Linked DNA regions of Homo sapiens: region 1 is linked to region 2. The links come from fine-mapping of genetic effects on gene expression. A gene starts in region 2. The other region holds a variant in brackets. All regions are shown on one strand. Distances are from middle to middle. Region 1 overlaps PEMT (phosphatidylethanolamine N-methyltransferase). Region 2 holds the start of CCDC144A (coiled-coil domain containing 144A).

What was found.
Region 1: its variant is fine-mapped to the expression of CCDC144A in breast (GTEx, PIP 0.97).

What each region holds. Positions count from the first base shown.
Region 1 is chr17:17,511,846-17,517,214 of GRCh38, reverse strand. PEMT (phosphatidylethanolamine N-methyltransferase) reads left to right here. Exons shown (of 7, transcript NM_148172.3): 4 at 4,561-4,706. Among named protein-coding and RNA genes, the nearest start is that of RASD1, 18 kb to the right of the region's middle. RefSeq lists enhancers at 1-136, 1,007-1,876, 2,747-3,616, 3,617-4,486. The variant T/C (reference allele first, on the strand shown) is at 2,028.
Region 2 is chr17:16,688,107-16,693,475 of GRCh38, reverse strand. CCDC144A (coiled-coil domain containing 144A) reads right to left here and starts at 3,235. Exons shown (of 17, transcript NM_001382000.1): 1 at 2,732-3,235; 2 at 427-497. The coding sequence starts at 3,075. It also overlaps the pseudogene RNU6-405P. RefSeq lists an enhancer at 3,342-4,245.

The sequences.
Region 1 (5,369 bases), 820 kb before region 2:
GCGGGGGCGGGGTCTTTGCTTAGGGACTCCCCAGGCTGGAATCAAGGTGCCTGCTGGGTGTGAGCTCACCCAAGGCGTGGTCCTCCACTCTTTCGGGTTGCTGGCAGGACGCGGGTCCTTGAGGCCCAGCTCCTGGTGGCCTCCCCGCAGCACAGCAGGCAGCTCTGTGGCTTTGGCTTTTGGTCTCTCTGGCTTCTAGACCCTTTTGGAAAGGCCTACCCAGGGTCACCTCCCTTTTGATTAACTCAAGGCCAGCTGATTAGGACCTGAATTCTATTTGTGAAATCCCTTCACCAGAGTGATTTCCTCGAGGCAGGTGCCTGGGGTAGCCACTGGGCGGGGTCCATGAGGGCAGCTGGAGAGTAAGGGGTGGGGGGACACTTAGGACAGGGAAGCTGGCATAGGCTTTCCTGGGCACAAGGGCCCCCAGCTGCTGGGAAGGAAGGAGGGAGAGGGGCTGCAGTTCGGCAAGAGTGGGTCCAGGCCCTGGTAGACCAGGCTGGTCTGGCACCTGAGGGGCTGTGGCTGGGAAGGAGGGAAGAGGCACCCTCCCCATCCCCAAAGCACACACGGCCAGGAAGTCTGGAAGGAGAGTGGGTGTCAGCCTGGGATTCCCAGGTGCTAGGGGTGCTGGGATACTGCTGCCTGTTGTCCTTGGCCTGCCCGTGAGGCTTGAGCCTATCCCACTGTTTACAGGTCGTGAGGAGGCAGGAGAGCCATCCTGCCCCTCCTGCTTTCTACCATCTGCTTCCCTGTTTGTAAAACAAGACAGACTCTCTCTCAGCTATTGATGGGTTCTGGAAACACTTTGGAAAGGTGACGTGTTATTCAAATGCTCAGAATTAGTGCAGCGTCAAAGCCCGAAATTCAAGCCCTTTGATGGTCTCGGGGGTTGCATAGATGAACATTTTTTGTTTTAGTAGTTACATGCTTATTTTAATATGTCTTGGAAAAGAAATGAGCCCATCAGACGACTCATTTCATGGCTAGCGTCGTGTAGCTGAGATGGAGTGGAAAGAGCGAGTCACTCCAAGCCTGGGGTGAAGGATGTGGAGTACATGGCACTCAGGCCACACATGGATGTGGACGACGTTGCGGAGACACCCCAGGATGATCAAAGTCAGGGAAGTGTTTCTGGTCGGCTGCAGATAGAAACGGGACAGGCCTGTCCCAGGTGGGGCCGTGTGCCTCTGGCCTGGTGTGTGGCCCAGGACTGCTGGCTGGGGACAGGGCGGGGACACTGAGGGCAGTGATGCCCCCTCCCCACCTCCACCCCAGGGTTTCCGGGATTTTATGGGAGCAGAGTGCAGACAGCCTCAAATCACATTAATGACTGAAGGTTCAATCCAGGTCTTAAAAATAGAACCCAAGGCAAATGAATGAGTCTCCGTTCCCCACCCCTAGTGCGGAATACTTCCAAGGGAAATTGCGTCCTATATTACCTCATTCTGTTAGGGAGCTTGTGGTCACAGAGCTACTCATCCATCCACTAATTTTCCCTGTGGAATGGACGGACTGTGCTTTCCTGGCTTAATGGAGGAGCTAGAACACTGTCGATTGCCTAATTCGGGCCATGAGATTCCAGTAAACCTGGAATCTAGAATCAGAGTGTATTTGACTGGGTAAGGGGCCACTTGGTGAGAACGCCAGGGAGGAGCTCAGCCCAGTTCCTCTGCCGACTCTGAGCAAATGACCCACAGAGCATTGTGCCAGGAGCCAGCCCAGGCTGTCATCTCAGAGAAAGGAAAGGAAAGGCCCCAGGACTGGGGCCGTAGGCGGAGGAGCAGCTGGGGGACTGAGGGTCAGGTCTGGGGCAAATCTGGGGCCTCTCCCACCCGCTCCCTGGCCCCGGATCTGCCCTTCATCAGGAATCTGCTTCCAAGCAGATCTGATTTGCCTACTGAGCCATGCCCCCAGGGAAGCTGGGCCCTGAATGAGCTGGGCTTTTGGGCCACACCAGAGGGAGGAAGTTCCCTTTCATCTGCTGCCTGCTTGTGTGATGCAGATGAATTCTGGCAGAGGAACCC[T/C]GAGCATGGGGTATGGACCCAGGCCTGGCTCGGGTCTCCGCAGGAGGGGGTAAGAGCGACAGAGTCTCCGTCCAGAGTGACCCTCCAGCGTCTCGGGCCTGGCCTCTGCGCCCACCCCCTATTGCAGCACCTGGATGGGTCTCCCTGGTTCTGCATTTTCCACAGCAGGCAGAGTGCATTCCAAACCCTGCCGGGCCGAGGCCTGCACCTTCCCTGCTCCATGCCCTGCCCCAGACTCTAAGGCACACCTCCCTGCTATTTCCTCTTTCTGGAATGCTCTCCCCTGTTCGCCCCTCCCAACCCCTGTCTGTTTTCTGGTCCCCACTGCAGTGGCAGCCAAGGAGCCAGATGCTTGCAGGGGAGCCATGCTCCTGAGCAGGGCCGGCACCCTTCCTTTCCCTCCCACTCCACCATCTGCAGGCAGGAGAGTGGAGGGTGCCAGGCAGGGGAGAAGGTGTGCCTGGATCGTGGCACCACACTGGGTGTGCATGTGGCCACCTGATTCCATGGCAGCCCGTGACCCTGAGCCAATCCCAGAGGCTCGGCCTGGAGCTGCGGGGTGACCCTGAGCCCGGGCAGCAGCAGGATCAGGGCAGGGCACTGGTGGGTGGAGAGCTGGGGGTATGGGCAGCATGACCGGCAGTGGGTTTGCCCTGACACCCGAATGCCGCTGTTTAACAGGTCGGTGTGCCCGCCTCTGCCACCGGGTCCTGGTGGCTTTGTCCACAGGCCCTTCTCCCTTTCTCCCTGGCTCCTTCTCTGCTCTTGGGGATGGGAGGAGAAGGAAGGAGCGGCTACTGCTTCTCTCCAGTCGATGAATATGCACTAAACATCCATTCTGTGGCCTGGGCCAAGTGCTGGGGGGATACGCAGGGAAGGAGGAGCAACTTCTGTTCCCCAAGAGCTCCCAGTCAAGCTGGAGGAAGGAGTTCCAGGGAGGCATAAAGACATGTCTGTATGTCCTTAGCTCAGCATAAGGAGTTTCACAACAATCTGAATTCACCAATGAATGGAACGAGTGGATGAAGATGGGGGCTTCAATCTGCTTGAAAGAGCCTAGCAAACAAAGATACTTCATGGTGGATGGATGGATGGTTGTGTGGGCAGATAGAGGATACATTGATGGATGGAAGGATGGATAGCTGGACAGATGGATGGATGTGTGGGTGCATAGAGGATAGATGGATGGAGGAAGGATGGGTGGTGGGGTGGATGGTAAGCTGGCCCTGCTGGGAGATGCCGTCTACAGACTGGGTGTGAAAGGCGCTGCCCTGCGTGAGGTAGCAGATCTCCATGTCTCTTCTGTGTTGTGATTATTGTGAGCATGGGAAGAGCACATTTGGTCACACATGTCCGTGCTCCCACACACAGCCTTTCCTGTGAGTGTGCCTCTCATCTAGCACCCAGGGCCCCCTTCCCACCAGCGCCCGCTCCCCTGTGATGAGGCCTGGGTACATCAGCACATGCCTAGCCCCTGTGCCCTCCCTGCACCAGCCCCTCAGTTCTCCGGAGCCAACTGGAGAACCTGAGCCTCTAGACCCACTGCTGTCATAGTCACCCCCTTTTGGTCACGCCACTGCCTTTTCTTTTTTTCTTTTTTCTTTTGATACTAAGTCTCGCTCTATTGCCCAGGCTGGAGTGCAGTGGTGTGCAAACTCCGCCTCCTGGGTTCAAGCGATTCTTGTGCCCCAGCCTCTCAAGTAGCTGGGATTCCAGGTGCCCACCACCACACCCAGCTAATTTTTGTATTTTGGGTAGAGACAGGGTTTCACCATGTTGGCCAGGCTGGTCTTGAACTCCTGACCTCAGGTGACCCGCCCACCTCGGCCTCCCAAAGTGCTGGGATTGCAGGCGTGAGCCACCACACCTGGACCCCACTACCTTTTTACAAGGCCTTCAGTGGTTTGGCCCCAAAGGGAGCCTAGTGGGGGAATTCAGGTGTGGAGGAGGACATTAAGGGCCCCCAAAGTGCCTTTAAATGCAAGTCAAGCCACCCAGGATGTGGCCAGACCCACAGGGGCTGTGGAAGCGCAATCCCTAGCACAGAGCATGCCCCAGGCCTCGGGGCACTGAGTCTGTTGGGGAATGGGACACCTGGGCCTGCCCTGCAACCTGGCACCTGCGTCTTTCCTGAGCCTCACTTTCCTCCATAGTATGAGTTGCTCATTGGACAGGATGAGAGTTTGCAAGCTGGTGGCCTTCGGGCTGAATCCAGCCTGCTCACATGCAGGGTCTAAAGTGGCTTTCATGAATTGTCTATTTCTAAAAATTAGGATATTTCACATACGAGTCAGGATTTCTGGCTTCTCTTGAAAAAATTTAAAAATCTGACAGGCCTGGGCCCCTCCCTGTTACTGTCACCCACCTCCCAGGTGGACTGGACCCCACCTGCTGCCTGCCTGGCCTGGCAGCCCTGGGCTGGCTACTCTCTAAGGGTCCCTGGGGAGAGGGCGAGAAGATGAGGTCGGCCTCCTCCCGGGCTGTGACATCCTCCCTGGCCATGACGTCCTCCCTCTCCATCCCCTGCCCACAGCTTCACGCAGGCCATGCTGAGCCAGCCCAGGATGGAGAGCCTGGACACCCCCGCGGCCTACAGCCTGGGCCTCGCGCTCCTGGGACTGGGCGTCGTGCTCGTGCTCTCCAGCTTCTTTGCACTGGGGTTCGCTGGAACTTTCCTAGGTAAGACCCTGAGGGCTGGGGTGACCCTGAGCAGGACCGCTGGAGCCCCAGGGAGGTGCAGGGCCAGGTGGCTGCTGCCCTGCTATCCGTGACATCGGTGGGAGTGCTAGGGGCCCCCTCCATCGGGGCGTCTTTGCTCCTCCAGGCCTGGCTTGTCTGTGGTTAGAACAGGAGGCTGGGCTCCAACAGCTCCTCTTACCCCAGCGTGCTGAGCGGCTGCCTCCTGGGGAGTGAAGGCAGCTCCTGCTGCTTCTCTCCAGCTAATGAAGATGCACTCAATGCCCGTTCTGCGGCCCGGGCTGGGTGCAGGACTCCTTGAGTCCAGCTCCAGCACCAGCTCCCCCTTGCAGAAGACTCTCAGGCCTTGTTGCACAGAAGCCTGAGGTGGTGGTGAGTCAGCCACCTCTCTGGCAGCTCCCGGCACGCGTGGCTCTCAGGCCAGGCAGGATTGTGGTTTGTGCCGTGTTTGGCCGCAGGCAGGGCTGGTGTAGGTCTGGGGAGGGGTGAGGGGTGGAGGCACCTTATCCCTTCTCCATTTCCCTCTGCCTGTGGCTGAGGTGCTTTCAGGCTGTGAGCCCAGTGCTGGCCTGGCTAGACGCCCACCAATGACCCTGATGATGGCAGCAACTTCCAGCTCCTTGGAATCTGGGAAAGAAAAGCAGC
Region 2 (5,369 bases):
GGCGGGGTGGCGGGCGCCTGTAGTCCCAGCTACTCCGCAGGCTGAGGCAAGAGAATGGCGTGAACCAGGGGGTGGAGCCTGCAGTGAGCCGAGATCGCACCACTGCACTCCAGCCTGGGCGACAGCGAGACTCCGTCTCAAAAAAAAAACAAAAAAAAACACTTTTTCTTATTTATACAAAAATATCACATAGGATTTTAGGGACCATAATTAATTTTTTTTCAGACCAGATTGTTTGAAAAAATAAATGACCTACAATTAACTTTTTAAATAATTGTGACATCTAACCTACCAAGAAATCTAACCTATCAAGAAAGAAATAAAGATTTTTTAAAACTGCTCTTTCATGATCAAAACTTCCTTACTCTTACTTCTTTTTTACCTATGGTAGGACCACCAAAAATAATTCACTATCAGAAGTCTTACCTGGATTGTTATTTTGAGGAAGACTTTCAGGTGTCTGTTTTTCCTTATATTCAGGAACTAGTTGCTGAATGCTATGGATAAAAATGTAATAAATGAAATTACTATTTTAAAACAAATGAAAAATACCAAATATATTAAATTTTTAGAGTATTTCAAACAATATCAGAGTTAATATCAGAACTTTAATTATCCCATATACTTCAATTTGTGAGTTCTACCAACTTCTCTTTAAGCTTCTGAAGAAGAAAAAAAGATGAAGTACTCATGAATTGAAGGGAGTATAGCTCAGTAAATTAACTCACATTAGCTTGGCATAATGGAAAGCGTCCTAGCTCTATTACCAGCAGCTATTTATTCTCTGACAAGTTGCTTCTCTTAGGCTCAATGTATTCTTCTAAAAAGCAAGGATTTTACTGCCTTATTTCACTAGGTTGTTAAAGATTTAACAAGAAAACGTTTTGTAAATGCTCAGAGAAACAGTGAAGCAATGAAATAATTTGTTCTTGAGCTTTATTGAGGAAATGGTTTTGGAATCACAAATAAAACCCAATGTGTATTTTTCCAGAGGTTCTAATATTCAAATGTTGCAGTTTTCCAAAACTGTTATTAAGTTCTAGTTTTATTAGTTCTATTCTTTGTGGCTTATAATTTGGGGCATCACAGCTAGTTCATAGTTTGTAACTAAATTTACTTATAAATATATTATTTCATCAAACTAGATAACAACACTGTCCACTATTACTGAGCTCATCAATCACGCCAAGGGGAGAAAGCTAATAGATGTCAAGACCTAGCTTGGACTACTGTTCCATACAGACTCAAACTCTGAATCGGCAGATCTTTGTTAGAAGGATGCTCAATCCCCATGTTCATCTCCAACTGACATGGAAAACAAAATGCTACTTTTCTTTTTCAGTTCCATGAAAGACATGCAAGTTGACATTCTCTCATTTCTGAGATACATACTGACAATATATTTGCACACAACATCCCACGTGTTACTCAGCTCCATTGATCACCTTACTGCATATTTTTGTAGTGAAAAATCACAATTTTAATATTAGGTGATACCCAGTTTGCTTTGACTCACACTGTCTTTGGAACTAGTCAGCAAATAGTCAAATGAACTTCTAGTGACTGCGCAAAATATGGACCACTTCAAAAATCTGTGCATCATCCTTATGCAGGCAGGGGCCATGCTAATTTCTCTCCATTTTGTTCCAATTTCAGTATATGTTTGCTGCTGAAGCAAGTTTTGTTTGTTTGTTTGTTTGTTTGTTTGTTTTAGACTGAGTCTCGCTCTGTCACCCAGGCTGGAGTGCAGTGGCGCGATCTCGGCTCACTGCAAGCTCCGCCTCCTGGGTTCATGCCATTCTCCAGCCTTAGCCTCCTGAGTAGCTGGGACTACAGGCGCCCACCACCACGCCCGGCTATTTTTTTTTTGTATTTTTTAGTAGTGACGGGGTTTCACCGTGTTAGCCAGGATGCTCTCAATCACCTGACCTCGTGATCCGCCCACCTTAGCCTCCCAAATTGCTGGGATTACAGGCATGAGCCACTGCACCCTGCCAAAGCTCTCATTTTATACATGGATATTCATGAGTCATGGATGAGACTTAGCTCTGTTAAATCCAACTAACATACTTGAGACTCAGAATTCTGGTGATGGCTTCCTGCCACAAATCTGGGAAAGGATAATATGGGACATTCCACGATCTAAGAAAAGGGTCCTCAGCATACAGATCTGGTAGCAATGAAAAAAGGAAACTCCTCTCTTTCTGCAACATTATTTGAACTGAACCCCGAGGGCCTAAAGGATAATTTATCATGAAGGTCTTAGCTAAGTCTAGGCTGAGACAAAAGCATAACAGGCGGGGTTTCACCATGTTGGTCAGCCTGGTCTCGAACTTCTGACCTCGTGATCTGCCCTCCTCGGCCTCCCAAAGTGCTGGGATTACAGGCATGAGCCACCGAGCTCGGCCAACATGAAGTTCTTAAGGATGGAAGGAACCTGAGCGACAGTAGAATATGTCTGCTGTATAATAGGTATTCAGCTTATGTTTGATGAATAAATTGAGAAAATGGATAAACACAGTTGGGAAGTGCAATATTTTTAAAGAAAACTCCTGTAAAGTAGACCAACACTTTTGCAATAGTAATAATCCTTTATATTTGATCCCGTCTCACTAAGAGGCCTGGGCCCCTGACCCCTCTGACGTTTCCCCATCCCGGGTGCCGTGGGGCCTGCGGGCACCAGAAAGCCAGTGTCCCCGACAGGACGGCGCATCCTTCGCCTGGCCATTACCTCTTCTTCCTATCCCTCTTGTCCACGCCAGTGTCTCCAGGAGCTAAGATGTGCTCCACCCCAGGGACGTCGCCCGACCGGGCAGCTCTGTGGAGCTCGCCAAGATCTTCCAGGCGGACGTCGTGCTGGGGCTGGTCTAAGGCGCCCTCACCGTGCTTGCTCTCGCTGCCGACGCTGTTTTTCCACCAGCTGTAGGGGAAGCCCGAGGACCACTGGTCCCCCGGGTAGCCCAAGTACCACTGGTCCCCCTGGCTCCCGACGCTAGGGGTCTTCCTCGTGGCGTAGACTGCCGGCTTCGGAGACCCCTCAGCCCCTCCCCGCTTTTCTCCACCCCAGGAGGCCATCAGTAGCGAGCTACTGCCTCGGCCACAACCTCCCAGCAGGATAGCCCGCGGTTTCCAATCTGCGAAAGGAGGACCGCCAAGCCAGAAATGCCAAGCCAAGCGATCACTGCCACGCCAAGCCAAGCGACCACCGCCAAGCCAACAGCCACCGCAAAGCCTCGTGGGTAAGGCCAAGCCAATCCGTTACAGACCAGTGCGCCTGCCCACCTGTGACATCACGGAACCTGTGACTTCACTGCATCTGCAGCTCCAGCCTCCCAGAAAAAGACTCCTTGGCCTGCAGGTGGCGCTGCAGCTCCAGCCTCCCAGAAAAAGACTCCTTGGCCTGCAGGTGGCGCTGCAGCTCCAGCCTCCCAGAAAAAGACTCCTTGGCCTGCAGGTGGCGCTGCAGCTCCAGCGCCAACCTGGGCTGGCTGGTCCTCCCTCGGAGGTTTCGGGGTGGCGGTGCCCAGCCTGCCTGTCATGAGTGCCGCTTCACAGCGCCGCCGGCGCACCTGCTCCTAGGCTTGCTCGGTTCAGGGGTACGGGTCAGTTCCGCCCCCGGCTTGGCCACTGCAGCAAAGTTGCCCTAGGGTCCGCGCTGCCAGGACGCAAGCGGAGTCAGATGGCTGGGTCAGAGCGGCCTGTCAGCCCGGCTGGAAGGGCCTGCCCGACGCCGCTGCCCGCCCAGCTCCTACTCGGCCTGCGCCTGGAGCCAGGGACCAGCTCTGGGCATTCTGCTGCCTTAGGATGGGGCCAAGCAGCCGCTCCCCGCCGTGTGCCGCAGCCGCTGCGCGCATCTGCCCAGGGTCCGTGCAGCTGGCGACCCGGGCGGGTCGGGGAACGCCTGGTGCCACCAGGATTGCTCGCCTCTAGTCCGTCCTGACCCTTCAGCCCGCGAGCACCAGTGAGATTGAAGAAAAGTGACGGCCAGGCGCGGTGGCTCACACCTGTAATCCCAGCACTTTGGGAGGTTGAGGCGGGCAGATCACTTGAGGTCAGGAGTTTGAGGCCAGCCTGGCCAACATGGTGAAACCCTCTCTACTAAAAATACAAAAATTAGTTGGGCGTGGTGGCGCGTGCCTGTAGTCCCAGCTACTCCAGAGGCTGAGACAGGAGAATCTCTTGAACCCGGGAGGTGAACGTTGCAGTGAGCTGATATCGTGCCACCAAACTCCAGCCTGGGCGACAGAGCAAGACTCCGTCTCAAAAAAAGAAAGAAAAGAAGGAAGGAGAGAACGAAGCAAAGAGAAGGAAAGAAGGAAGGAAGAAAGGAAGAAAGAAAGGAAGGAAGGGTGACAAAGGAGAATCTAGAGAGCACTCAAATACTAATTCTTGAGGACAATTAAGACAGATAGCATTATGAAAAACAGATTTTGTCACTGAAGCCTCAGGGCTTCAGCCTAGATCCTGCGCTGCTCACCCACAGAAAGCCAATCACTGAGATGAGTATTGCAAAGGAAGAAGGCTTTAATCAGATGCTGCAGCCGAGGAGATGGGAGCTCAGTCTCAAATCCCTCTCTCTGACCAACTAAAATTAGGGATTTTTAGTATAGCAAAGAAGAAATGTAACTATGTATAAGAAAACATGAACTAGAAAGGCGTAAGGAAGCAATCATTTACAAAATATCTGTGGCCGGGCGCAGTGGCTCCCACCTGTAATCCCAACACTTTGGGAGGCAGAGGCAGGTAGATCATGAGGTCAAGAGATCAAGACCATCCTGGCTAACATGGTGACCCCTTGTTCTCTACTAAAAATACAAAAATTAGTTGGGCGTGCTGGCACGTGCCTGTAGTCCCAGCTACTCGGGAGGCTGAGACAAAAGAATCGCTTGAACCCAGGAGGTGGAGGTTGCAGTGAGTCAAGATCATGCCACTGTACTCCAGCCTGGCGACAGGGCTAGACTCCATCTCAAAAAAAAAAAAAAAAAAAAAAACAGAAAAAGAAAAAAAGTATCACCCTGCCTCCTCAATCTTGGCATAATTCCCCCTATGAGTGGTTTCTGGGGTCTCAGTTGGCATTTAGTCACACGTATGACATTGCACATATCGTGTGCACATCTGCACAGCTCAGCAGTGTCCTGGGTAGGCCTTGAAGGGTGATCTTCACGTAAGCCTGTGGCCTGAGCAAGAAAGCTGCACACGGGCAGCGGAGGAACCAGCAGGAGCCCAGTCCTCTGTGGAAAATTCCAGCACCACCCGCAAGAGCAGCTGCAGTGGAGACTGTGACCTGACAAGGATATATGCATGAAGATGCTGGTCTGAAAACAGACTCAGTTTAAGGGTGGCACTTTGAAAAAATATTGATACATGTC